Regions from separate parts of the Homo sapiens genome. Here region 2 is linked to region 1. Evidence: fine-mapped QTL for protein levels in blood plasma. A gene starts in region 1. The other region holds a variant in brackets. All regions are shown on one strand. Distances are from middle to middle.

Region 1 (12,924 bases):
AACTAGATATCCAAATGAAAAGATTAAAGCTGGACCCTTGCTGGGAGCACTGGTTCACGCCTGTAATCCCAGCACTTTGGGAGGCCGAGGCGGGTGGATCACCTGAGGTCGGGAGTTCAAAACCAGCATGACCAACATGGAGAAATCCCGTCTCTACTAAAAATACAGAATTAGCCCGGGTGGTGGCGCGTGCCTGTAATCCCAGCTACTCGGGAGGCTGAGGCAGGAGAATCGCTCGAACCCGGGAGACGGAGGTTGCAGTGAGCCAAGATCACGCCATTGCACTCCAGCCTGGGCAACAAGAGTGAAACTCCGTCTCAAAAAAAAAAAAAGCTGGACCCTTATATTATACCATATACAAAATTCAACTCGAAATGGATCAAAGACCTAAATGCAAGATGTAAAATTATAAACCCCCAGAAGAAAGTAGGGGGAAATCTTTATGATATTGGATTTGACAATTTTTTTTTTTTGAAATGGAATTTCACTCTTTTTGCCCAGGCTGGAGTGCAATGACACGATCTCAGCTCACTGCAACCTCTGTTTCCCAGGTTCAAATGACTCTCCTCCCTCAGCCTCCCAAGTAGCTGGGATTACAGGTATTCACCACCATGTCTGGCTAATTTTGTATTTTTAGTAGAAATGGGGCTTCACCATGTTGGCCAGGCTGGTCTTGAACTCCTGACCTCAAGTGATCTGCCCGCCTCAGACTCCCATAGTGCTGGGATTATAAGCGTAAGCCACTGCGCTTGGCTGTTTTTTTTTTTTTTTTTTTTTTTTTTTGTTGATATAACACCAAAAGCACAGGGAACCAAAGCAAAAATAGATAAATGGAATTACATCAAACTTAAACACTTTGGTGTATTGAAGGGCACAATCAGCAGAATGAAAAGTCAGTCTATGAAATGAGAGAAAATACTTACAAATCATGTAACTGATAAGGGGTTAACATTAGAATATATAAAGAATTTCAGGTTGGGCACAGTGGCTTACGCCTGTAATCTCAACACTTTGGGAGGCTGAGGCAGGCAGATCACTTGAGGCTAGGAGTTAGAGACCTGCCTGGCCAAAGTAGTGAAACCAAGTCTCTACTAAAAATACAAAAGATTAGCTGGGTGTGATGGTGTGTGCCTGTAATCCCAGCTACACAGAAGGCTGAGGTACGAGAATCGCTTGAACCCAGCAGGTGGAGGTTGCAGTGAACTGAGATCACACCACTGCACTCCATCCTGGGCAACAAAGTGAAACTCTGTCTCAAAAGAAAAAAAAGAACTTCTACAGCATCGACAATACAAAACAAATAACCCAATTAAAAATAGGCAAAGGATTTCAATATACATTTTCCAAAGATGATATACAAACGACCAACATGCATCTGAAAAGATGCTCAATATCACTAATACTAGAAAGTTGCAAATCAAGACCATAGGGAGGTATCACCTCACCTCCATTAGGATGGCTAGTATCAAAAAGACAGAAAATAACAAGCGAAGACAAGGATGCGATAAAACTGGAATCTTTGTTTACTGTTGGTGGGAATGTAAAATGGTGCAGCTACTATGGAAACAATATGGTAGATCTTAAAAAAATAAAAATATGATTACCAAATGATGCAGCAATCCCACTTGTGGGTATATATCCAAAGGAACTGAAAGCAGAATCTGGAAGAGACATTTGCATATCCACATTCAGAACAGCATCCTGCACAATAACCACGAGATGAAAACAACCCAGCTGTCCATCACTGAATGAACAGATAAACAAAATGTGGTATATACATACAATGGAATATTATTCAACCTTAAAAAAGAAGGGAATTTTGACACATGCCTTAACATAAATGAACCTTGAGAACATTATGCTAAATAAAATAACCATTCACCAAAAGACACATATTGTATAATCCCACTTACAGAAGGTACCTAAAGTAGTCAAATTCATAGAAGAGGAAAGTAGAATGGTGGTTGCCGGGGCTGGGCAGCGGAGGAAATGAGCAGGTATTGTTTAATGAGTATGCAGTTTCAGTTTTACAAGATGGATTTACAAGATGGAAATCTATTGCACAACAATGTTAAGTATATGAACATTAACAATACTGAAGTATACACTTAAAAATGGTAAATATGATACATTTCATGGTATGCATTTTTTAACCAAAATTTTTCAAAATTGAAAACTTTAAAAAAGAGATAATGATACCTTATGGAAATGAATTTTATAGCCTCCAAATGAAAGATTGACAGTACTTTTAAAAAATGAACAATTTATCTGCTCAATTTAAACACTCATTTACAAGGTGGAATAGGAACAAGATGCTTAAAGTAAACATTCTCATTGGACAAGGAAGACTGGGGGACACACAGCAATGACTGACTTGTAGCAATTCTGATATACTGCTGGGCAGACATCAAAAGGGACTCTTCCTGGAACAGGAACAGGGGCTCTGAGCTCACTTGCAGGAAGGGCTTCCTTGTCCGGGGCCCCAGATCCACCTTCTGTGAGGCCCTTGCTTGTCCATTTCTTCTCCTTGGCCATACTGTACATGGAACTCAGTGGACATGCCCTCCTAATTCAGTGGCTGTCATGGCTTGTTTCTAGCTCATGGAAGATTCGGAAGTTGTTTTATAGATAGAATAGTCAAAGGCTTTTTCAGTCTTGGCTTCTGATTTTCCTGGCAACATAATTTTCTCAAAAAATTACTAGCACTTTTCCAATCTGCCAGTAAAGACATGTAAAATCTCTTTCTACTCGCAGTGCTTGACATATTTCTGTGCTTCCTCCACACCCGACCCATAACTGTCTTTTAGGATCAGGCTGCCGGGCTAGAATGGGAATGCCACATTGTTAACCCACTCTCTTCCTGAAGCCACTCTGTCAAACTGAAAGGTTTTATGGATATTTTGTTGTTCAAATCATTTTTAAAAATTCCATTCCACTGCCTGGGATGGTGAACAGTTGTATTTCAAACTTTACAATGTCCTAAATGTCTCGACTCTATGCTCCCTTTTGTTCCTGATTGTAAATTGGTCAAGGCTAGGTCAGAACAAAGGACACTATGAAAACCCAAGTCAGAGGTTACCAGGACTGGCTGTTGGCTCCAATGACCTGAATATGAGAGAACTGAGGAGCACATGGCATCAAACTCATCTGTGCACCAGTATCCATCTTCTAGGGAACTCGTAAAATACAGCAATGGGAAGAGGAGCCTTCCCTGCATTGTAACATTCTAAATCAGAATCTTTGAGGATGTTGTGATGTTTTGGAAAGACCTCAGGTGACTCCAATATACCTTAGGTCACTTAGGAAGCATTTAATGCACAAATTAAATCCACAGCCTATGAACCCATAGATAAAAGGTGACTTGCAAAAGTTTACCTGACAATCTAGTCACCAAACCAGATACAGATCTCAAAGGCCATGTCTTAGTGTCCAACTACCTATTGTAAATCTTCACCTGGCTCCTGGCTGTGATTGTCCCAGTAGTGCTCCCCTCCCAAAGATGCTCACATCCTTGTAGCCAGGCGTGGTGTCTCACACCTGTACTCTGGGAGTCTGAGGCGGGTGGATCACCTGAGGTCAGGAGTTCGAGACCAGCCTGGCCAACATGGTAAAACCCCATCTCTACTAAAAATACAAAAATTAGCCAGGTGTGGTGGTGCACATCTGTAATCACAGTTACTTGGGAGGCTGAGGCAGGAGAATCACTTGAACCCAGGAGACAGAGGTTGCAGTGAGCTGAGATTGTGCTACTGCACTCCAGCCTGGGCAATAGAGCGAGACTCCATTTCCAAAAAAAAAAAAAAAAAAAAAAAAAGCCTACATCCTAATCGAATCCCTATGCTCTATAAGTATGCTACCTGACATAGCAAAAGAAATTTTATAAATGTGATTAACTTAAGAATCTTGAGATGAAGATGTTATCCTGGATTATCCAAATGGGCTCAGCATAATCACAATATAATCACCTTTTAAGATGAAGGCAGGAAAGTCAGAGTCAGAGACAAGATGTGACTATGAAAGAAAAGGAGTGAGAGAGAGAGAGAGAGAGGTTTTTGAAGACACAGGAAGAGACCATGAGTTAAGGAATTGAGGTAGCCTCTAGCAGTTGGAAAAAAGCAAGAAAATGGATTCTCCCATAGAACCTCTGGAAGGAATGAATATAGCCCTATGGACCCATGATAACTCTGACCTCCAGAACTATAAGACAATGTATTTTTGTTGTTTTAAGCCATTAAGCTTATGGGAATTTGTTACAGTAACAATAAGAAACTAATACAGATTTTGGTACCTGGAAATATGGTGCTTCTGTAACTAACACCTACAGATGTGGATGTGGCTTTGGATTTGAATAATGAGCATAGGCTGGAAGAATTTTGAGCATGACATAAAAAGCCTAGATTTCCTGGAACTGATTGTTGGCAGCAACAGGAAATGAATGCATTGCACTTGGCACTTTCTTCTAAAACAGAGTCTCACCACTGCCAATGCCCTGTGTTCAGTTTCATCATGAAAGGAATTCCATGCTTGGGTGGAAAACAGTATGGAGTCAAGACTTCCTGAAAATGAAGAGATGTGGCCTGCAAGGGGAATGTAAGCAGATTAATTTGGGGTTTGAGCATGTGGATCCCCCCTTTCTCTGCCTCCTCTCCTCCCAGACTGTCTGCCTCAAATCTGCCTGGCGTCAAAAGGTTGCTGCTCGGAAGCCGTATGATGAGGTCTCATTTGTTTGCATTCTATTCTCTTTTTGCCTCTTGGCATCTACTGCAATTTGAGATTTCACTCCTGACTGGTGATCAAGGCCAGGGAATGTAGGGGTAGAGGAGAGGCAGGGGACGCTGCTTGACCTGGAGTGAGGGTCAGTGAGTTTTCTAAATAGCTGTCAATAAATTGTCTGCTGACTGATATATCAGGGTACTTGGAGCTTTGAAGGGATTCGGTAGTCTGATTCAGGGACCCTGGACTGGCTCAGGAATGTAGAAGCAGAATCCCTTCTCTCCCTCTGCAACTCCAGTTAGTAGAAATGGAAGTTTTCCAACAGATGTGCTCCCAGATCCGAAAGGGAACCTTTCCTCTGGGTTCCTATTTGTAACACATTATCATACCTGTATGATCGATGTAGGCTCAGAATATCTGACCTGTCTTGACTGACAAAGCGAGTCAGCGCTGGATGCGGGGTGAGAACCTGAGTGTGCTTCTTGCCAGTCAAAGTTGTCCCCAGCACCTCATGCTGCCAAAAGCACTGCCTGCTCTAGGTTGACACAGTGGTCATTTCCCCACCAGACTGGGAAGTTAAGAACCATGCAGTTTATTCAACAGAGCAAGACATCTGCTTTCCTGAGTGTTGGCGTGGTGTGGGTGCCCAGGCAGGTCGAATGCTTTAGGTGGGACAAATATCATGCAAAGGAATACACACTTCAGGTGGCTATTTAGGAATAGAAGGCTCATCTGTTTAAATGGATGATTCCAGGTGCCTGAGATTGGGATGGGGGTATAGTAATGGAGGGAAACACATTCTGGTTTCAGGGAAGCTGCCCCCTTAAAATGTGGGTTGAAGATGAGGTTTTCATATCTGAAGTCACAGGTCTTTCTCCTCCATTTACAACATGCAGCATTTCACCCTGCATGGCTCATTCTTCATTGCTGCCTCTTTGGCTCCATATTTAGGCCTTCATCATCTCTTGCTTGGACCATGGCAATAGCTTCTCACTAGTCCGTATTTCTCTGTGTATGTATAAAATCTATAAGTTACATTTCCTGAAACTTATCTCTGAATCTCTAAACATGGCACATCCCTCCTCATTGGACTGAAGATTCTCAACGTTTCCTTTTAACCTACAGAGTTGAGTAGTAACTTTTCACCCTAACATTCAAATCCCTTGACTCAACCTTCCTTTCTAATTGTCATCCCTTGACATTGGTGTGGGCCCGAATTCGCATCTGGTTCATTGGTTTTCTCCCTGCTTGATGTACACATCATCACCATTTCTACCTCCAGGTATTTGCTCCCACTCTTCCTTCTCCTTTCTTAATGATCCTATAATTTTCCTAGAAAAGCCTTCTTCATTCATAAATAATAAGTTCAGGTCTCATCATCTCTATGAAACTTCAATCTAATCATCTTATCTATGGTGATTAACTCTTTCCTTATTTCCTAATACTGGCAGTGTCTGTATTACTCCAGGTTGGGGTATTAATTGGAGAGGTACAGATTGGGGGGTGGGTAGCCCAGTTAGGGGGCAGTTGCAATATGTTAAGGGAAGAATTGCATGCAGGGGTCAGGGTCTGTGAGAAAAGGAATGGGGGTTGGGCTCTTGCTAAATGGGTGACCAGGGTCATTGGACTCTGGGCTGCTTATGTTGAAGACTGGAAGGGTGGTGCTTTAATGCCTAACTGGCCTGCCATAAAGATTCTTCTACGGAGACTCAGAGGAGACCACCCAGTGGAGAAGACCGGGGCCAATCCACTTTCCCATTCCTTCAAAATGTAAGCCCCACCCTCTGAAATCATGTTCCTTTGTCACCACCAAGCTCATACTCTCAGCTTTGTAATTTCCTTCAAGAAAACACTGGAAGTCAGGTTTTGTACAAAAATATATTTATTTGGTGTAATAGTTACAAAATATTCATTTCCACAATAATATTTTAGCAATGCATTGGAATGTTAAAAAAAATTCTTTGTATTAATGATTCTTGCAAAGACCCTCAAAACATCCCAGGGGTAGAACTGTGGTTCAAGAGGAAAAGCAATTTCCCCAAGTCTCTGTATCTAAAAAACACTAGTACCATGAAAGATAAACTTAAAACATCAATAACTTAAATAAGAATTAACATTACTTAAGGCATAATGTTTCACATCAACAAACAAAATTCATTATAATAAAATAAAACAGGGTGTCTGGGGAAAGCTAGGGGAAAATAAGTTAGCTGCAGATTCTTGGGTTGTGGAGTGAGTGTTCAAGTCTTCGGAGTTTGGGTTTGCTTGTCCAGGTGGTCCATGGAATCCTGAACCCACTTCTGCTTGGGGTCAGCACAGATCTCCTTGGCCACAATGGTCTTGAAGCTGTGGGGAGGGAGGACAGAGTTAGATGAAGTTCCTTTGCAGTTTTGGTCTAGAAGTGCAGCCCATTCTGCACCAAAGGGCTGCCATGGGAGCTAGAGGAGGAACGCAGGTGGAAGGAGGGAACCCAGGGCAAACTGCTCCTATAGGTGTCCAGGTGGAGCCATCCTGACTTCAAGCTAAAGAAATTGGGGTGTTCTGAATAGGCACCCAGGTGGAGAGTGATGTTGGGGTTCACTTTTTCCCTTGGTGCCTCAGTTTTCCCATTGGGAACCTTTGTACATTAAGTTAAATAGTGCACTCTCTGACTCTAGGTTTATGAGGCTTGTCCCTTGCTCCACAAGGAAGAACTTCAGGCCAGGGAAGGTTGGTGTGCTGAACTCACATCACAGCTTCTTTGGGACACTTGCTGCTGGTGATTCTTCTATAGCTCGCGAGCCTCTGCACTGAGATCTTCCTATTGGTGAAGTTATAACAGCAGGTGACTGGGGCATTGATTGCATCTGGAAAATAAACCACAAAGAAAAAGCATTTTAGGATGAACTGGATTATTCTGATCTTAAGAGCAGAAAAGAGTCATGAGGAAAAAGCAAAAGGCAGGCAGGAGAAGACAAAGAGCTCATTAAATCCCAGTGCTTCTGCCTATACCTCAGAGCTAGAATGTGATCTTTGACCCAATGACTCAGTTTCCTATGCTGTAAAATGGGTATATAACATTGATAATGGACAGAGAGAAGGAGGAGCTGTTAAAGCTAGATAATGCCTACAAGTGTCATTAAGACGGACCAATAATCCAGATGATCAGCACCAGGGAAGATCAGCTGGGGAGCCCCACTATGAGCCTCCTTTTAGACTCTGAATAGGCTATGCCTGGTCATGAGTTTCCCTGATACTCATTACCTCTGCAGAGTCACCGTCTCTGGAAGCTAAGGTGAATGAAGCACAGACCAGATTCTGGGTCTCCAGCGTGTCTGGAAACAGCCTACACACCCACCCTCTCTTTGATTACCCTGATCCCCAAACTCTGCTGGAAGCAGCTGGGGGAGTAACTGCGCTGAGTGTGTTCCCAGAGCTGGAATCCTGGAAGGAGCTGGATTTGGGGTTCACAGCTGGAATTCTAGTTCAGGCTCTGCCGAGCAGCAGCTGTGTGGTTGGGCTCACCCCTTGTCCTTTTCTGAGTCACCTTATCTTGGAAAAGTAGCGTTAAAGCAAGACTGTGGGTACCACGTCTGCTTGGATGGTCCATGATAACTCAGAGAGAAGACAATGTGGTTCAAGGAGAAGAAGAGGGGGCCTTACCTGGCTGAGCGAGCCCTTGGGGAATGAAGGTGGCTGCTATGAGCAGCAGGCACAGAAGGGCGGCAGAGACTTTCATGCTGGAGGCGAGAGTGCGAGCTTCAGTTTGAGAATTGGATGTTTCTGGGTTAGTCTCAGCCTCTCGGTTCCTCTGGCTGCTGTCTCTGCCTCTTATTGAAAGCGGGCAGAGGGAGAGAGGGCGGAGTCAAGCAGGAGGAGGGATCTTCCATGAGTGATAAGTGGGCTGTTAAATCTGCTGAGCAAATGCAGCATCCTGTGGATTTCCAGGAAGTAGGAAAGGGAAGCAGGGGGTCAGGACGAGACACTTTTTCCATTCACTGCTGAGACCAAATGAGCAAATGGGGAGGATGGGGTGCCATTAAGCCCAGACTGACCACAGATGTGAACTAAGAGGGTTATTTTTAAGGATTCTGCTTTCTCTGAAGCGAAAACTGCAGAAAAGGAAGGAAGCGAGGAAACTAGATGAAAGCATGTCAGGCTCGCTGCCAGCTTACCTTCAGGCCACATTCCAAGGGGCCTCCCAGCCAGGAAGGAGCTCTCAAGCTTTGGCCGGCTCCCTGACAATGCATTAAATCCATTTGCTCATTCAAATGCAGAATAGTAGCATCATAGAAGCCTAGCAGAACTGTAGGATTGTGTAAACATTGAACTGAATTCTAAGAGTTCTAGGGTTTCAGACTTGGACAAAGGCATAGACAGCATGTAGTGCTGCAGAAGAAATGCCAGTGTCATACTCACAGAGTGCTTACTCTGCCAGGAATATTCTCAGACCTTTACAAATATTAACTCTGTAAATTCCCCAACTTTATCTAGTAGGGATTGCTAATTTTCATGTTATAGATCAGGCAACTGAGGCACAGAAGGGTTAAATAGCCTGCTCAAGGTCCCCTCGAGCACAGAACCCAGGCAGCCCTGTCCCCAGTGGGCTGCCACCTCTCTGACATACTGCTGGAAGGAAACGTGTACAAGTCCTCCAACTAGTTGCCTGCTTGGGTCCTCTCTCTGTCCTCAGCATCTTCCAAATGGGCAGACAGCTAAAGGAGAATCTAGAAACATTCCTCATGGCTAAGTCATTATGAGTTAGGAGGCTGTTGCTAGCATAGCAGGCAGCAGTGGACAAGAAGTTCATCCCTGGTTATGGCAGCTATTCTCCTGGCTTCCTTCTTAATTTCCAAGGGACATGAGTAAGCAGTGGAGGAGTATTTCGGGAATTGGAAAGCCTGACTTCATTCCTCAGTTGTGCCTTAGATTTCCTCAGAAACTACAGAAGCACACTGATAAAAACCCAAAGACCTTAGAATTCATTTCAGTGAACTGTTGTCTCTTACAAATATGATAGGAGTACTTGAGGCATGTTAATGGCTGGGCTGAGTTTAAAATTCTGATCTCTCGATTCTCCTAGCCCACTGCCTCCTCCTTCTGAGCCTTGCGGTGCCCTTGCCCAATGGGCATACAAAGACTAGTGACTTCTTTCATAAAGGGTCACTGAGGCAATGTCTATAAATGCATGGGGTTTCTTGAAAGAAAACACTTTTCACTACACTTGTAAAAAGAAACGGGTTGTATTCAACAAATGACTGTTTTATTTCTAGTAAGTGGTCAGTAATGGCATTGTTGAGTGCATTCAGGGAGTCAGGTATGGTGCTGACATACTTTCCAGCGCTGCCTGCCCAGTCCTCCAACCAACCCAGCTTTCGTTAGGTTAAAACTGAAGTTATTTGTCCAGTAACTCAGACAGAATAGTAGATGTGCTGAGACTCCCACCCAGGATGTTTCCATTCCAGAATCTCTTCTTCCTGGGACTAGACTTGATGTCTCATGATGGATATTGGTTTCCTGGAGAATCCCAGAGCAGAGACTCTATGGAGTGGCCATTTCAGACTCTGGTGGAATTACAAAAAGCAGGATGAAGAGAGAACAAATCAACTCGAGCCCTGCTTTGCTTGTGCCTCTTGAGGAGCCTTATTCTTGTTCTGCCTGAATCTCACTAGTTACTCCTTTTCTCCCCAACCAGTGTTGAAACTTCTCTGTGTTTGTCTCAGTCCTCTGCTCATGCCTCAATCCATTCTTATCCAATGAATAAAATGTTTCCAGGACTAGAGACTGTGCAACTTTGTGTAGGAATTTCTTCCTAGGCCATCTCACCTCATCTTCCAAGAAGTTTTCCTCATATCAGGGGAAACCTCTCTCTAATCAGTTAGTGCATCCTTTACCATGAACTTGGTGGACCGCATTCAATTTCCCTTTATAATCCAGTCATGCTTCGGGTTTTCTCTAGGTTAACAAGCTGAAAGATGCTGAGATCTTTAAATAAGTCTCTCCTGGCTTAGTCATATCAGCATCACTCATAGAATCCCAGAATCAATGGGCTTATAGACATCCTGTGGCATGACCACTTGTTTTTATCTGATAAAGCCACAATCCAGAGAAGGAGACCAATTAGCCCATGGTCACAGAGAAAAACTTCCCAGCTTTGCTGGCTGAGTGTTCACATAGGCTTCTGAGTGTTGGAAGCATGTCTCTACTTCAGGAAGGAGTTGTCATCTCTGGAAAGTGACTTGGCCTTTGCATATATCAGACAGTAAACACAGGGAAGGTGAAGGGTATGAATCAGAAAAGAAAGTCTTCTGGAAAGTGATAGCTGTCTGCCTCCCACTTCTGCTCTGTCAAGAAAAGATGCCCTCCCCCGCTGGGAGGTCAGTGCTGGCGTGAGAGAAGTGAGTGGAAATTCCCACTCTGAGGAGGCAGCTTTGGAAGTTCCCAGATCCCGTAGAAGAGAATGCATTTGGCTGGAGCCTGCATTCCAGATACTGGGCCCGGAGCCAGGGAGCTCTCACATGGGGCTGTGCTGGGAACATCTCGGCACAAGCCTGGGTTAGGCTCTGGCACAAACCTGGGTTGGACTCTCGCTTGGGGACACACAAGGGAAAGGCCCCCAGAGGGGCTATGGGGAAAATGAGGGTCAATGCTCTGATGCTGTCCAGAATCCTCAGTTACCCCGGGGCCTCCTCTCTATCAACTCATAGATAAAGAATGGAAAAGCTCCTCTTGGTGAATAATGCTTTCTTCATTCCTCCCGGGGTCTGACCCCACCACTAAGATCCTCTGCATGAACCTTGGTCATCGCTGCAGACTCCCACTCAGTGTCAGGGGTGAAAAAAAGAGGAAGTAAAAGTGAGCTCTCTGGAAAGATCTGAAGCCACTGCCTGGGCTCCCACCAACTTCTGCGGTTCACTTGTCCCTCCCCACCTAGTGCAGGCTCCCTTGCTGGTGCTCCCTTCACTCAGCCTTCAAGAGAGATGCACCGTAGCTCTGCACTCACCATGTCCTTTCTAGACAACCCCCACTCAAGGCCTCTCCTCCAGGCTAGCTCCAGGTAGAATAGAGCCCATTTTCCCAGGGCCGCTACTCTGCAATCCCTTTCCTGTCAAGGATGAAAATCTTTCCTTAATTTTTCACAGAATGTCAGAAAATGAACGAGACCTTAGAGACCATCTACCTGTTTCTCTGATGGGGAGACTGAGGCCATGAACAGGTTAGTGACAGGCTCAAGGTGAGATAGAAGACGAATGGCTACATTTGTGCTGGTTTGCTTATTTCTGGGCTCTCAATGTAGTGCCCTTTGTCATCTACTGCACTATCTCTTTATTATAACATTCATACAATTAGCACATACCCTGTGCAGAGCACCAGGTAGAGGACTGCACAGGGAGGGAGAAGTGAATTAGACATGATGCTTCCTTTTCAGAAGAGATGCTAAAGTAAGAATCCATGGAAAGTAGGACTGAATTTAGGAATAAATCTGATCAGTACTTACCCCAAGCTTCCAGCATCTAAGATTTCTTGCTTTCTGGATTGGATCTGCCCCAGGTCTAATTGCATGCAGTAGCCAAGAATACTCCTGAGCATGGGAATAGGGGTGGCGATGGGCATAGCATATGAGAACAGAAAGAGTAGTGGCCTGAGTTGGTGGGTGGGGGTGATGGTGGTGAGGAGTAGTGATGCCTGAGGAAGCAAGAGGCTTGTTCTTTAGATTGTCTTCTGAGCCAGCCCTCACAGATTAGCACCTGAGCCCTAGAGGGAGGAGACTGATGTGGGTTGGGGGTAAGAGTTAAATAAATTCTTAGGCTAAAGGCAGCGTGAGCCACTCTACAGCACTTTCGTGTTACACATTGGGGGAGAAAATGCTTTCCTCATTTGGGGCTTGCATTGTACAAGGTGGCCTGAGCAGTGTGATGAGGGGGTCAAGGTGCCGAACTGGGAGAGGGGGATGGGCAGGTCTTAGGGAAACAGAGATCAGATGGAGTGGAGACAGAAACACTTTTTTGACAATAGCCTTTTGTTGACTCCTTTAGCACCTGTGCTGGGGTCATCTAAGGGAACAGAATAATTGCATTAACCAGAAAGATACAGAGCGGTGAGAGTCCCAGCTGAGGGGCCCAGGGAAGGCTCGTGATGGTACATTTAAGATGGGCTCAAGGGTTGGGCAGATTTTTGAACCTTGGCGATCGGTGGGTGAAGGAGGGGTCACATTTTGGGCAAACTTACAAA
Region 2 (15,950 bases), 51 kb after region 1:
AGGGAAGCCCATCAGACTAACAGCAGATCTCTTGGCAGAAACTCTACAAGCCAGAAGAGAGTGGGGGCCAATATTCACGTTCTTAATGAAAAGAATTTTCAACCCAGAATTTCATATCCAGCTAAACTAAGCTTCATAAGTGAAGGAGAAATAAAATACTTTACAGACAAGCAAATGCCAAGAGATTTTGTCACCACCAGGCCTGCCTTGCAAGAGCTCCTGAAGGAAGCACTAAACGTGGAAAGGAACAACCGGTACCAGCCACTGCAAAAACATGCCAAATTGTAAAGATCATCAAGACTAGGAAGAAACTGCATCAACTAACAAGCAAAATAACCAGCTAACATCATAATGACAGGATCAAATTCACACATAACAATATTAACCTTAAATGTAAATGGGCTAAATGCTCCAATTAAAAGACACAGACTGGCAAATTGGATAAAGAGTCAAGACCCATCAGTGTGCTATATTCAGGAGACCCATCTCATGTGCAGAGACACACATAGGCTCAAAATAAAGGGATGGAGGAAGATCTACCAAGCAAATGGAAAACAAAGAAAAGCAGGGGTTGCAATCCTAGTCTCTGATAAAACAGAATTTAAGCCAACAAAGATCAAAAGAGACAAAGAAGGCCATTACATATTGGTAAAGGGATCAATTCAACAAGAAGAGCTAACTATCCTAAATATATATGCACCCAATACAGGAGCACCCAGATTCATAAAGCAAGTCCTTAGAGACCTACAAAGAGATTTAGACTCCCACACAGTAATAATGGGAGACTTTAACACCCTACTGTCAACATTAGACAGATCAATGAGACAGAAAGTTAGCAAGGATATCCAGGAATTGAACTCAGCTCTGCACCAAGTGGACCTAATAGACATCTGCAGAACTCTCCACCCCAAATCAACAGAATATACATTGTTTTCAGCACCACAGCACACCTATTCCAAAATTGATCACATAGTTGGAAGTAAAGCTCTCCTCAGCAAATGTGAAAGAACAGAAATTATAATAAACTATCTCTCAGACCACAGTGCAATCAAACTAGAACTCAGGATTAAGAATCTCACTCAAAGCCGCTCAACTACATGGAAACTGAACAACCTGCTCCTGAATGACTACTGGGTACATAACGAAATGAAGGCAGAAATAAAGATGTTCTTTGAAACCAATGAGAACAAAGACACGACATACCAGAATCTCTGGGATGCATTCAAAGCAGTGTGTAGAGGGAAATTTATAGCACTAAATGCCCACAAGAGAAAGCAGGAAAGATCCAAAATTGACACCCTAACATCACAATTAAAAGAACTAGAAAAGCAAGAGCAAACACAGTCAAAAGCTAGCAGAAGGCAAGAAATAACTAAAATTAGAGCAGAACTGAAGGAAATAGAGACACAAAAAACCATTCAAAAAATCAATGAATCCAGGAGCTGGTTTTTTGAAAGGATCAACAAAATTGATAGACCGCTAGCAAGACTAATAAAGAAAAAAAGAGAGAAGAATCAAATAGACACAATAAAAAATGATAAAGGGGATATCACCACTGATCCCACAGAAATACAAACTACCATCAGAGAATACTACAAACACCTCTACGCAAATAAACTAGAAAATCTAGAAGAAATGGATAAATTCCTCGACACATACACTCTCCCAAGACTAAACCAGGAAGAAGTTGAATCTCTGAATAGACCAATAACAGGAGCTGAAATTGTGGCAATAATCAATAGTTTACCAACCAAAAAAAGTCCAGGACCAGATGGATTCACAGCCGAATTCTACCAGAGGTAAAAGAGGAACTGGTACCATTCCTTCTGACACTATTCCAATCAATAGAAGAAGAGGGAATCCTCCCTAACTCATTTTATGAGGCCAGCATCATCCTGATACCAAAGCCTGGCAGAGACACATCAAAAATGAGAATTTTAGACCAATATCCCTGATGAACATCGATGTGAAAATCCTCAGTAAAATACTGGCAAACCGAAACCAGCAGCACATCAGAAAGCTTATCCACCATGATCAAGTCGGCTTCATCCCTAGGATGCAAGGCTGGTTCAACACACGCAAATCAATAAACATAATCCATCATATAAACAGAACCAACGACAAAAACCACATGATTATCTCAATAGATGCAGAAAAGGCCTTTGACAAAATTCAACAGCGCTTCATGCTAAAAACTCTCAATAAATTAGGTATTGATGGGACGTATCTCAAAATAATAAGAGCTATCTATGACAAACCCACCACCAATATCATACTGAATGGGCAAAAACTGGAAGCATTCCCTTTGAAAACTGGCACAGGACAGAGATGCCCTCTCTCACCACTCGTATTCAACATAGTATTGGAAGTTCTGGCCAGGGCAATCAGGGCGGAGAAAGAAATAAAGGGTATTCAATTAGGAAAAGAGGAAGTCAAATTGTCCCTGTTTGCAGATGACATGACTGTATATTTAGAAAACCCCATCACCTCAGCCCAAAATCTACTTAAGCTGATAAGCAACTTCAGCAAAGTCTCAGGATACAAACTCAATGTGCAAAAATCACAAGCATTCTTATACACCAATAACAGACAAACAGAGAGCCAAATCATGAGTGAACTCCCATTCACAATTGCTTCAAAGAGAATAAAATACCTAGGAATCCAACTTACAAGGGATGTGAAGGACCTCTTCAAGGAGAACTATAAACCACTGCTCAATGAAATAAAAGCCACAAACAAATGGAAGAACATTCCATGCTCATGGATAGGAAGAATCAACATTGTGAAAATGACCATACTGCCGAAGGTAATTTATAGATTCAATGCCATTCCCATCAAGCTACCAATGACTTTCTTCACAGAATTGGAAAAAACTACTTTAAAGTTCATATGAAATCAAAAAAGAGCCCGCATTGCCAAGACAATCCTAAGCCAAAAGAACAAACCTGGAGGCATCATGCTACCAGACTTCAAACTATGCTACAAGGCTACAGTAACCAAAACAGCATGGTACTGGTACCAAAATGGAGATATAGACCAATGGAACAGAACAGAGCCCTTGGTAATGATACCACACATCTACAACCATCTGATCTTTGACAAACCTGCCAAAAACAAGAAATGGGGAAAGGATTCCGTATTTAATAAATGGTGCTGGGAAAATTGGCTAGCCATATGTAGAAGCTGAAATTGGATCCCTTCCTTACACCTTATACAAAAATTAATTCAAGATGGATTAAAGACTTAAACGTTAGACCTAAAACCATAAAAACCCTAGAATAAAACTTAGGCAATACCATTCAGGACATAGGCATGGTCAAGGACTTCGTGTCTAAAACACCAAAAGCAATGGCAACAAAAGCCAAAATTGACAAATTGGATCTAATTAAACTAAAGAGCTTCTGCACAGCAAGAGAAACTACCATCAGATTGAACAGGCAACCTACAGAATGGGAGAAAATTTTTACAATCTACCCATCTGACAAAGGGCTAATATCCAGAATCTACAAAGAACTTAAATTTACAAGAAAAATACCAAACAACCCCATCGAAAAGTGGGCAAAATATATAAATAGACACTTCTCAAAAGAAGAGATAGATCCAGCCAACAGATACATGAAAAAATGCTCATCATCACTGGCCATTAGAGGAATGCAAATCAAAACCACAATGAGATACCATCTCACACCAGTTAGAATGGCGATCATTTAAAAAGTCAGGAAACAACAGGTGCTGGAGAGGATGTGGAGAAATAGGAACACTTTTACACTGTTGGTGGGACTGTAAACTAGTTCAACCATTGTGGAAGACAGTGTGGCGATTCTTCAAGGATCTAGAACTAGGAATACTATTTGATCCAGCCATCCCATTACTGGGTATATACCCAAAGGATTATAAATCATGCTGCTGTAAAGACACATGCACATGTATGTTTATTGTGGCACTATTCACAATAGCCAAGACTTGGAACCAACCCAAAAGGGCATCAATGATAGACTGGATTAAGAAAATGTGGCACACATATACCATGGAACACTATGCAGCCATAAAAATGATGAGTTCATGTCCTTTGTAGGGATATGGATGAAGCTGGAAACCATCATTCTGAGCAAACTATCACAAGGACAGAAAACCAAACACTTCATATTCTCACTCATAGGTGGGAACTGTACAATGAAAACACTTGGACACAGGATGGGGAACATCACACACCAGGGCCTATCGTGGGGTGAGGGGTGGGGGAGGGATAGCATTAGGAGATAAACCTAATGTAAATGAAGAGTTAACGGGTGCAGCACACCAACATGGCACAGGTATACATACGTAACAAACCTGCACATTGTGCACATGTACCCTAGAACTTAAAGTATAATAAAAAAAATAATAAAAATAAAAAATAAAAAGAAAAAATCAATTATGGTTTTATACATTGGAAATTTAGTGAAGTTAAGTAAACAATTCCATTTATAATAGTACCAAAAAGAATAAAGTACTTAGGAGTAAATTTAATAAAAGTAATGCAAAACCTGTACACTGAAAACTACAAAACATCAATGAAATAAGTTAAAAAGGACTTAAGCATACAAAAAAAAACATGTTCATGGAATAGAAAACAATATTGTTAAGATGGCAGTACTCCTTATGATGGTTAGTTTTAGGAGTCAACTTGACTGGATTAAGGAATACCTAAAAAGCTGGTAAAACATAACTTCTGAGTGTATCTGTGAGGATGTTTCTAGAGGAGATTAGCATGTGATTCTTACTGAGCGAGGTGGAAAATATCCACCCTCCATGTAGGTGGGCACTATTCAGTTGGCAGGGGCCCAGAATGAACAAAAACAGAACAGAAGTGTATTTGTCCATCTATATGCTAGAGCTGGGATACACTCTTCCTCTCCTGTCCTTGAATATCAGAACTCCAGGCTCCCTGGCCTTTGGACTTCAGGACTCATACCAGTGCCCCCCTAGGTTATCAGGGCTTCAGCCTCAGACTGAGAGTTACACCACCGCTTTCTCTGATTCTGGGTCCCTTGGACTTGGACTAAGCCAGGCGTCTCCAGCTTACAGACAGCCTGTGGTGGGACTTCTCAGCCATCATAATCATGTGAGCTAATTCCTCTAATAAATTCCCTCTCATATCTATCTATCTATCTAATCTAATCTAATCTTTCTACCTATGTATCCCATTGGTTCTGGCTCTCTGAAGAACTCTGGCTAACATACTCCTCAAATTGTTTAGCAGATTAAGCACCATCTCTATCAAAATATCACTGCCATTTTTGTAGAAATTGACAAGCTGCTCCCAAAATTTATATTGAAATTCAAGCAACTAGAATACTCAAGAGTCCTAAGAAAGAGGAACTAAGAGGCTGAGCGCTGTGGCTCATGCCTGTAATCCCAGCACTTTGGGAGGCCGATGCAGGTGGATCATAAGGTCAAGAGATCGAGACCATCCTGGATAACATGGTGAAACCCCGTGTCTACTAAAAATACAAACAATTAGCCAGGCGTGGTGTTGGCAGGTGCCTGTAGTCCCAGCTACCGGGGAGGCTGAGGCAGGAGAATGGTGTAAACCCGGGAGGCAGAGCTTGCAGTGAGCTGAGATTGTGCCACTGCACTCCAGCCTGAGTGACAGCACGAGACTCCCTCTCACAAAAAAAAAAAAGGAAAGAAAAAAAAAAAGAAAGAGGAACTAAGTTGGAAGACTCACAATTAACAATTTCAATACTTATTACAAAGCTACAGTAATCAAAACTGTGTGGTACTGGCATAAGAATAGATGTATAGACCAATAAAATAACATTGAGAATTCAGAGACAAACTCACACTCATGGTCAATTGATTTTCATCAAGGGTGCCAAGATAATTCAATGGGGAAAGAATAGTCCCTCACTGCATGGTGCTGGGACAACCAGTTAGCCACATACAAAAAAATAAAGTTAGGCCCCTGGCTCATACCATATAAAAAATTATTTCAAAATGAATTAAAGACCTAAATGTAAAAGATAAGACTATTAAACTCTTAGAAGAAAACATATGAGTAAATCTTCATGACCTTAGATCAGGCAATGTTTTTTAGATATGACACTAAATGCACAAGCAACAAAAGAAAAAAACAGTTAAATTGGACTCCTCCAAAATGAAAACTTTTGTACTTCATAGGACACTATTAATAAAGTAAAAAGATAGTCTTCAGAATGGGAGAATATAACTGAATCATGTTTGTTATGAGTTTTGTATCCAGGATATTTAAAGAACTCTTACAATGCAACAATAGAAGACAACCCAATTTTTTAAATGGACAAATGACTTGAATAGACATTCCTTCAAGGAAGATACACAAATGACCAATAAGCACATGAAAAAATGCTCAACATCATTAGTCATTAGGAAAATGCAAATCGAAACCACAATGACAAACCACTTCGTACCCACAAGAAGGGCTACAATAAAAAAGATGAACATTTCTAAGTATTGGTGAGAATATGGAGAAATTGCAACCCTCATACATTGTTGTTGAGAAGGTAAAATGGAACAGCCACCACAGAAAACAGTTTGGCAGTTTCTCAAAAAGGCAGACATTGAGTTACCATATTACCCTGCAATTCTACCCTAGGTATCTACCCAAGAAAATGTAAAACATGTGTTCATATAAAAAAAATTATACATGCATGTTCATAGCATTTTTCATAATAGCCCAAGGTAGAAGGAATGCAAATATTCAATAACTGATGAATGGATAAATAAAATGTCATATATCTGTATAATAGAGTATTGTATAGCCATAAAAATGAGTAAAAGATTAAAGATACCACCACATGTATGAACCTTGAAAACACTATGCTAAGTCAAAGGTATTTATCACAAAATACCGCATATGGTATGTAAAACATTCAGAAAAGGCTAATCTGAGAAGATACAAAGTAGTGGCTGCCAGGGACTGGGAAGAGGTAGGGGTGACTGCAAAGAAGTATGGGGGTAATGAGGATGTTCTGGAATTAAACAGTGGTGGTCATTGCATGACATTGTAAATATACTAAAACCACTGAACTGTACACTTTAAAGGGATGAATATTATGGCATAGTATAAATTATATCTCAATTTTATAATGCTATGATATAATAGATGAATATTACTTGGCATACAAGTGATACACAGCAACTTTTTATTTTCTTGCTTTCTTATTCCACTGTGTTCCTTCAAAGCTTGGTCTGGAATACTTGCCTCTGCAAGTTCCTGCCAGAGAGATAAGTTTATTGGGCTGGGAATTCAAGTTTATCATTGTGTCCAATCTCAATTCCCTGAAGGCCTGATGCTTGGCCTCAGGCTCACTTTCATGATTTAGAGGCAAATCTCAGATTATCTGAGCAAGAAATCACTAAAATATTCTGTGAATTTTTCCCGCCCCTCAACTAGCAGGTTTGAGGATACTATGCCCAAGGCAGGTGTGATGTGCCTGGGCCAGACGCAGAACCACACTCCTGCGTGGCCCCTGAGCTCCTGCATTCCACTGTTCTGGGTCCCTTTCTTCTTCTGCTTCCTGCTTCCCCTTCCAGCATCACTCTTGGCTCTGTCAAGAAGTGGTGTAGGTGATGTGGCCTGAAGCCAAATGATGCTGGGAGGGTCAGTGAGGTCCATGTCTTTGAAAATGTATGTGCAGCGGTAAAAAATAAAAAACAAAAAACTGCTACTGCAAACAAACTGCAGCCACTTTCTAGCTCACTGGATG[A/T]GGAAGGAAGCATGTTATTCCATTTGGAAAAACACTTTCAGGGCCCCTGCTGTTCAGCAGTTTCAGATCTCAAGGCCTCATGAGGAAGGGGAGGGTGAGAAATAAAGAGGTCATTTCTGGGGGTAAGAAAGTGGAAGGACAACTTCCTTGCTTGAGGTTACTTTTGGGTGAGTGGCATTTTGGTTTCTATTAAAGGGCGTAAGTGCTGGAGTGGGTCCCAAGGGAAGGAAGAGATGGCAGAGGCTGAGTGCAGTGGCTCATGCCTGTAATCCTAGCACTTTGGGAGGCTGAGTCGGGTGGATCACCTGAGGTCAGGAGTTCGAGACCAGCCTGGCCAACATGGTGAAACTGTGTCTCTACTATAAGTACAAAAATTAGCCAGGTGTGGTGGCGGGCACCTGAAATCCCAGCTACTTTGGAGGCTGAGGCAGGAGAATCGCTTAAACCCCAAGGGATGGAGGTTGTAGTGAGCCGAGATCACATCACTTCACTGCAGCCTGGGCAAAAGAGCAAGACTCTGTCTCAAAAAAAAAAAAAAAAAGAAAGAGATGGCAGAAGGGGCTCTGTTCCTAGGGCAGGTTGGGGTTTAAGGTGACCATTGACTCAAGAATGGAACCTGGTATTTAACATTCAGCTGTTTTCTCTCCCACATGGCAATTGCTGAAACCTTCATGATACAAGTGACATCACCCAACCTTGAGTTAGCTTTGCAGTAGGGAAGGCCCAGGAGGAAGGTGGTGGAAATGTTGGGTTCAAGTCTGGCTTGCAGAAGTGTTCAGAGGTGAGAGGGAAAGCTCAGAGTAGCCTTTCTGACTCAGAAGTGAAAAAAGCCACAAAGAATGTAATACCTTGGGAATCCTAGGGCATCCTGGAGGTGGCCGACTATTATCATTAGTGTGATGGCAGATGGGAAAGGAAAGGCATTCCCAGAAGGCTGCAGGACTTGGGAGCCCTAGAGCACTGATGGGTACTGGTTCTCCCAGAACTGCAGAGGCTACCCAGGGAGAATTCAGTGTGCCGAGGGGAATGAGGGCATGCAGTAGAGGAGAAAGGGCACAGACAGAAGCTTGGGAGCCTGGTTTGTGTGTTTAACAAGAGCATTGAACATCACTGTCACATGGTACAACTTCAGTAGGTGCTGGCTACATTTGAACAGAGGAGCTAAGGCTGTAATGGTGAGATGACACGCCAAGTGGGGCTAGGGTCACAGCAAGAGACTGCCAAAGTGGGAGGGAGGCCACCTGCTGAGGAGGATAAGAGGCATTCTTCTATCAGGGAAGCACTAACTATGGGACATCAGGGGTGCTAGGTGTCAGGTAGGTAAAGGCCACTCAATGTCAGGGCTCAGTTGCACATCATAACGTGGATGGCACTCAGTGCCAGGCATGGGGAGAAGGCTTAGTCTCAAGCATGGACTCATGCTCCGGCGATGGGGAGGACTCCGTGCACGCGGGTGCTAGAGAGAGGAGCTAAGTCCCAAGGATGCCTAAATCTCGGGGAGGGAGCTTGCAAAGTCAAACTTATGGGGGACCTTAGTGACAGGGATAGTGGGAGATGACACTCAGGGCCAGGGATGGCCTGGAACGGTCTTCCATGGGGGGCTCAGGACTCTCGTGATCTGGCCTCATGCTCCCACCTGGTCTTCATCCGCCCATCTGCTGCAATGGCCTCTCCTCCCTAGCTGAGCTGCTTGTCAGGAGCAGGCCCCTGCTTAAGGCAGGGCCAGGCCGCATGCAAGGACATACAGCAAGAATGACATACAGCAAGAAGCCTTGCAGGGCAGGGCAGCCCCCAGGCTGCAGCTCCTGACTGTTGATGCCACCTCTCCCCACCCCAGGGCCGAGCTGGTGGCTGGCCAGGTTGGAGCAGAGGACAGTAGCAGGGAGCCCACAGTGTGACCCCACTGGGCTCCAGCCCAGCATGCTTTCCCTTCTCTAGCTGTCCAACTTCTCCAGGAGCTGGTGAAAGCAGGTGTGGTGGCATGAGGCCGTGGGCTCTGTTCTCCTAATTTTGGACTTCCAGGTACTGGAGGTGGTAGAGCAGGTGGAGCAGGTTGAGCAGACTTCCAGCTGATGGAGTCTGTCATCAGCTCCAATGGGGTTGCAGCAACAGACCTTCAGTGGGAACAGAAAAGACTTTGAGACATCTCATCCAGCTTTACTCTTTACAAATAGAGAAATGGAGGCCCTCAAATAATGTGCCCAAGGTCACTCAGGAAGTTGGCATCCTGGCTCCAGTTCCTTGTCTTCTTACACAGTGCATGCCTCCCAAACATGATGATTTCAAATCATGCAATAGGGTCAACAGGCTCTGGCTCTGCCATGCATTAACCAGGTGACTTTGGAAAGGCCGTTAATTTCCCCAAACCTCAAGGTCCTCATCTGTAATATGGACATAATCCAATCAGTGTTACCAGTCTTATTAGACTCAATAGGAGGTCACCATCTCCAGCTCTTGTTCTCCACATGCATAACAAAGATCTTAGCTTTCTGAAATAGTCCCCAGGCACAATCAGACCCAGTGGGGCTCTCATGTGCTGCCAACACTCAAACAGACACATCCATTTATGCCAGGCTCTGCCTCTGCTCTGAGAAGGCTAGTGGCATTCTGTTGGGGATCACTGGTGCCACTGCTCCTGGTATGTTGAATGCCATGATGTACAGTTGTTTCTGAGGAAGAGGGCATGCATCTTCCCTCTTTGTGTGAGGCTTGTCCAAAGAAGCAGTGTCCAGGCAGTGTGGCTCTACCTCAATGCCTCACAGAATTCTTAGTAAAATGATTCTTTTAGTTTTTATTTGGAGTCCCCCAGGGGCTCATAAGTCATAGATCCTTAGGAGCTCAGTCAGAGATTTCTTGGAATGACAGACACCAGACTCTGCTAAGCACGCCAGAGAAGGTGGTGCTCACCAGACCCCACTCTGCTCCTTGACACCTTCCAGCTGCCCTTGCATTAATTGGGTCCATGTGACTAGTTCCAATCCGTGGCTAGAAGTGATATCACTTCCCGTTAAAGCCCAGGACACTTAGTTCTTTCTTGCCTTGACTCAGCAACTGGTGACATCCCAGATGCTGGGTCCCTGATGGAATATGAAAAACAGAGTCCTTGCCCAGAAAGGTGCTTTGGATGAGTGAGAAAGGAACATTTATGTTAAAAACTGCTGAAGTCTGGGGATAGCTTGTTACTGCAGCACAACCTAGCCTATCCTGACCAATGCATCAAAACAGTTTGCCTTCCCTAACCAAGAAGTCCTTGCTTGATTAATCTCACTGAGCAAGGTTTCTTCTTCCCTTCAAATGTGGTCTTTTTAGAAGATGGCTCAGTGCCACAACTATCAGCCTTCTTGTATACATTACCCACGGGTTTGTCATAGGTGACCACACCTGTCAGAGCCTCATTCAGACAAGGGCTAAGCTCTCCATCACTACAATGCCATCACTTTCCTCCCTGCAGCCACTGTCTTCCAAGTCTCTTCTCTCAATGACAGATTCCACCCTGGACTCTGATCTTCTGGAGCTCTGAAAGCTGAAGAGTACAGAGCCGTGTATGTGGAAGTTTTCCCTAAATTCTCATGAGCTTCAAACTCTCACGAGCCAGTGGCTTTGTTTCCAGTTTTCTTCCATGCAGACCTGATACCTCCCATTCTTTCCCCCCATGCTGCCACCTCTTCCTGCAGTAGCTCCAACATGCGTGACAGCGCTAGTAGCTAACTCCGCGGGGTGGTGCTGCTGCTATGCCATGGCTATTTCTGCTTTAGACAGGACTCTGCTTGCTTCTGGGGAAATCTCTTCGGAGCTTGCCCTGCAGGACAGCAATTATTCTATGCCTGAGAAGATAAGCCAGATAAATCTGCAACCACATCCAACCACACCAAAAGAGCTGCAGGCAGTTTCTACTTGCTTTTAGGAGTGCTTTCTCTCCAATTATTCCAGGTCTTCCTGAGCGCCTCCAGTGTGGCAGCAAGGTATTTATGCCCTCCCTGCCTTTCAAGGAAGAGATGATGGAGGTGTTTAGCATTGGCACCACTGCTGCCCTTCTCTGATGGCTTCTCTCTCCTGAGGGCCACTGTGATTCCCATCAGCCTCTTAAAAGAATAAACACTATCAAGTATTTATTACTATAGCCTCTGAATTCACAAGCCAGGCATGGTCCTCAGCTTTCCACACTTCTAACACTGAGAATGCCTCTCTAATTATTCGTTTAGAGACATTGCCTATTTTGAGCACAGTGGCATCTTTCAGGGAAGAGCCCTAAATGTTTTCCAACCTGATAGATGTCTCAGATGAGGTTAAATATCTCTTAGACTTAGGTTGGATTTTGCATGACCCATGATATAAAGGCAGTCGAGCATAGTGGTTAAGAAAGCGAGCTTTGGTGTTAGGTTGTGGGAGTTTGAAACTCAGCTTTTTTGGTTTTAGTCAGGTAACCTTGAGAAACATGTTTAACCTCACTGTGTCTCATTTTAGTCATTTATAAACCAGAGATGATAACTGCACAGATCTTTCAGGGCTCTACGGAGAATTAGCTGTCATAACGTAGGCTAAATACTAAGTACTTGACACATAGGAAACATTCCACATGGACTAGGTCCCTTCTTCTTGCCCCTGCAGGCTCCCCAGTTCCATTCCTTTTTGCACAGGCTTGCCTATGTTAATTTCCTAGGAACTGGCTTCCTCTTGCCACTCTCTTTCTATGCACTTTGAATGGCTTCCAGCCATTCATAAGCCATCAGTTTAAGAGATACAAAAAGGCTCTCATCTGAGCCCTCAAGACCTTCCACAATATGCCCCCAACCAACCCCTCCAGTTGTATTTTCAGCTATTCCTCCCAAGACCCTCCCTCTGGCCTAGCTGACCTCTCTATTCTCACTAAACCTCTTCACTCAGGCCAAGACTGTATCCTGACTTCTTTCTCCATCTCTTCAAGCCTTACTCACCCTCTAAGTCTCAGTGGAAGACCTCCCCTCCTACAGGAAGTCCTCCCTGACTAGACAGAAATTCTGCGCCATCCACATGGTAATTAGTCACCAGCAGAAGTATCTCTCTGCAGTTTTGCTTTTGCTTGCTTTTGCATGTGATCTTCCCCTCAGTATGAAAGCTCTTTGAAGAAAGGCTCTGTGTTTTCATAATTAAGGCTTGGCATTCAGTAGGTACTCAATAAAGGCTGGCTGGCTAGATGGGTGAAGAAGCATGGGTCTTAGAAGACTCCTATGGGTTGGACAGGGATGACAGTAAATCTCTGAATGCCCCTGGGACTTCTCAGGGACACAGAGGAGGGAGAAGCTATTCTTTACTACCCCTGGGAGTTTGTGTGGAGCTGTGGGAAATGAACCGGCACACTTTCGTTAGCTGAGTGTGTGCTAAAGCCCCCTCCGCCTTTTCCTCAAGGCTCGTCAAAGTGGTCACTTGGTAGCTAGTTCTGCAGTGAAGGATTAAGGTTCAGGGTCAGACCCTGAACTCCAGTGGCAGCTGCAGCTTTTACTAATGATGTGAACTTTACAAGTTCATTAACCTATCAGTGTCTCAGTGTCACTGCCTACCTTTAAAATGGCGATAACCAGGCTAGGCACAATGGCTGACACCTGTAGCCCTAGCTACTCTGGAGGCTGAGGTGGGAGGATTGCTTGAGCCTGGAAGTTTGAGGATGCAGTGACCTATGGTCGCACCACTGCACTCCAGAGTGGGTGACAGAGTAACACTGTTTCAAAAACACAATAAATAAATAAATAAATAAATAAATAAAATAAATAGGGATAACAACTGTTCCTACCTCAACTCGTTGTGAAGATTACATGAGCTAATGCACATGAGCAGTTAGAACACTGCTGCAGTGAACACCAATACATAACCTCTGTATGGATCATTTTGGTCTATAGGTTTGGACAGGATGACATGGAAAGAAAAAGCAGACTCAAACTCCATCGCTATCACTTCTAGATCCGTGATTAGGAACATGTTCTCCTTCTCTGAAGCTTTGTTTACTTGTCTTTACAACAAAGAAAATCATACCCATGATAAAGGATGGGCATGGAAATGAAATACTGTTTATTAAGCATGGATATTACATTAAGTATAATTACATGTTGCCTATTAAGCATGGAGAACAGTGCCCGTCATATATGGGGATCATGGGTATGTTCTTATTCTTTTCCATTTAAGTCTCCCTTTTCTGCCTGGCGGAGTGGCTGGGCTGAGATTGTGGTAACCGTAGGAAAGAGAGGGGAAAATGCAACTTCGTGTAGAGGTTAGTGTGGGTCTGCTGTCACCTGCTGGATTAAGTAGGTAAAGACATTGCCAGGTGCTCTCTGCTGCCACCTTATGGTGAAAGAGGTTTCTAGCAGAAGAGCATATTTGTCTAGTCCTGCTTGTGTTCTGTTCCTCCTCACACCCCTCCAACAATGCGTGCTCTCCCGACCTACCTTCTCTCAAACTCTACCTGGGGAGCACTTACCAAGTGCCAGATATTGTATAGACTGCGATTAAAAGATTAATGAGACAGAGGCTCTGGCACTGACAAGCAGTGCTCACTCTTTAAGGGACCTAAGAAATATGTGGAGAACTTTATTATTTTTTAAAATCACATTTATTCACATACAATTTATTTTCACACAACAAAACGCATGCTCTTTAAATGTACACATTGATAAGTTTTGACAACTGTATATGCACGTGGAACCACCGCCCCAGTCAAAATATTGAACGTTTCTGTTATCCCACAAAGTTTTCTCATGGCGCTTGGTAGTCAATCTTCACCACTTCCTACCTACCCCAGGCAATCCTTGATCTGACTTCTCTTGCTATAGTTTGTTTTGCCCTTTCAAGGACTTTATATAAACGGAAGTGTACAGTATACACTCTTTTGTGTCTAGCTTCTCTAGCACAACAAATTGTTTTTGAAATTTATCCATGCTTTTGTAGGTATCCGCAGTTTGTTTTCTTCTATTGTTAAGTGGTATTTCAGTGAATAAATACATAATTCATTTATCCATCCTCTTGATAGATTTTTTGACTGTTTCCAGATTTATGCTGTGGTGCAAAAAACTGCAGGCACGTTTGTGTATAAGTCTTTGGGTGAACTTTGTGAGTCCTTTGTGTGGTTTTTATTTATCTTGGGCGAATTTCCAGAAGTAAAATTGATGGGTCGCAGGTAGATGCATGTTTAACTGTGTAAGAAACTGACAAACATTTTTCCAAAGTAATTATGCCATTTACGTACCTACTACAAGAATTCCGATTGTCCACATGCTCACCAGAGCTTGCTAGTTTTCTTTGTTTAACTTTTAGCTATTTTAATGTATGAAGTTACATCACATCGTGGTTTGAACTTGCAATTTGTTGATGATTAGCAATGCTGATCATTTTTTCAGGTGCTTATTGATCATCTGTGTGTCTTTTTAGGAAGTGGCTATTAGAGTTATTTTGCCCTCTTTAGTATTGACTTGTAAGAATTCCTTTTATATTTTGAATATAAGTCATTTGTCAGATGTATGTATTTTCTCCATCGTGTGGCATGTCTTTTCAATTTCACATTAGTGTCTTCAAAGGGAAGTTTTCAGTGTTGTTAAGGTCCAATGTAGCAACTTCTTTTTCTTGTCTTTTCTTTTCCCTCCCTCCCTTTCTTTCCTTTCTCTGTCTTTCCCTTTCTCCTTCCTTCCTTCTCCTCCTCTTTTCTTTCTTTCTTTCTTTTTTCTCCTTCCTCCCTCCCTGCCTTCCTTCCTTCCTTCCTTCCTTTCTGTTTCTTCTTTCTTCTTTCTTTCTTTCTCTTTTTCTTTCTTTTTCTTTTTTCTTTCTTTCTTTCTTTTCTCTTTCTTTCTTTTCTTTCTTTTCTCTCTCTCTCTGTTTCTTTCTTTCTTTTTTCTTCTTTCCTCCTTTCCTCTCCTGTCCTCTCCTCTTCTCATTAGTGTTTTTTATGTCTTCTTCAGGAAATATTTGTCTAACTAAGGTTGCAAAGATACTCTCCTGTGTTTTCTTTTAAAAACTTTACATGGTCAAGTGTCACTTAATGACAGGAATACATTCTGAGAAATGGATTGTTAGGCAATTTCATCATTGTTCAAATGTCATAGAGTGTATTTACACAAACCTAGATGGTATAGCCTACTGCTACACCCTCTTGCTCCTAGGCTACAAACCATACAGCGTGTTACTGTGCTGAATACTGTAGGCAGTTATAACACAGCAGAAAGTATTTATGTATATAAACGTATCTAGACATTAAAAAAG

Alleles and levels. Positions count from the first base shown, and alleles are read on the strand shown. Strength reflects both the effect of a copy and how common the allele is.
For the plasma level of the protein whose gene starts at base 8,496 in region 1, allele T in region 2 goes with a lower level than allele A (weak association).

The links. PIP is the posterior inclusion probability: the model's chance that the variant is causal. The UK Biobank Pharma Proteomics Project read protein levels with antibody pairs (Olink). The fine-mapping took linkage between variants from a reference panel, not from the people measured, so its PIPs are less certain.
Region 2: its variant is fine-mapped to the plasma level of the CCL2 protein (UK Biobank, PIP 0.97).

What each region holds. Positions count from the first base shown.
Region 1 is chr17:34,250,857-34,263,780 of GRCh38, reverse strand. It overlaps CCL2 (C-C motif chemokine ligand 2), which reads right to left and starts at 8,496. Exons shown (of 3, transcript NM_002982.4): 1 at 8,356-8,496; 2 at 7,442-7,559; 3 at 6,578-7,059. The coding sequence starts at 8,431. The coding sequence ends at 6,954. RefSeq lists enhancers at 7,825-8,799, 8,800-9,774, 10,718-11,917.
Region 2 is chr17:34,198,185-34,214,134 of GRCh38, reverse strand. No RefSeq gene overlaps it. Among named protein-coding and RNA genes, the nearest start is that of LINC01989, 23 kb to the right of the region's middle. RefSeq lists enhancers at 9,026-9,525, 9,526-10,027. The variant A/T (reference allele first, on the strand shown) is at 7,731.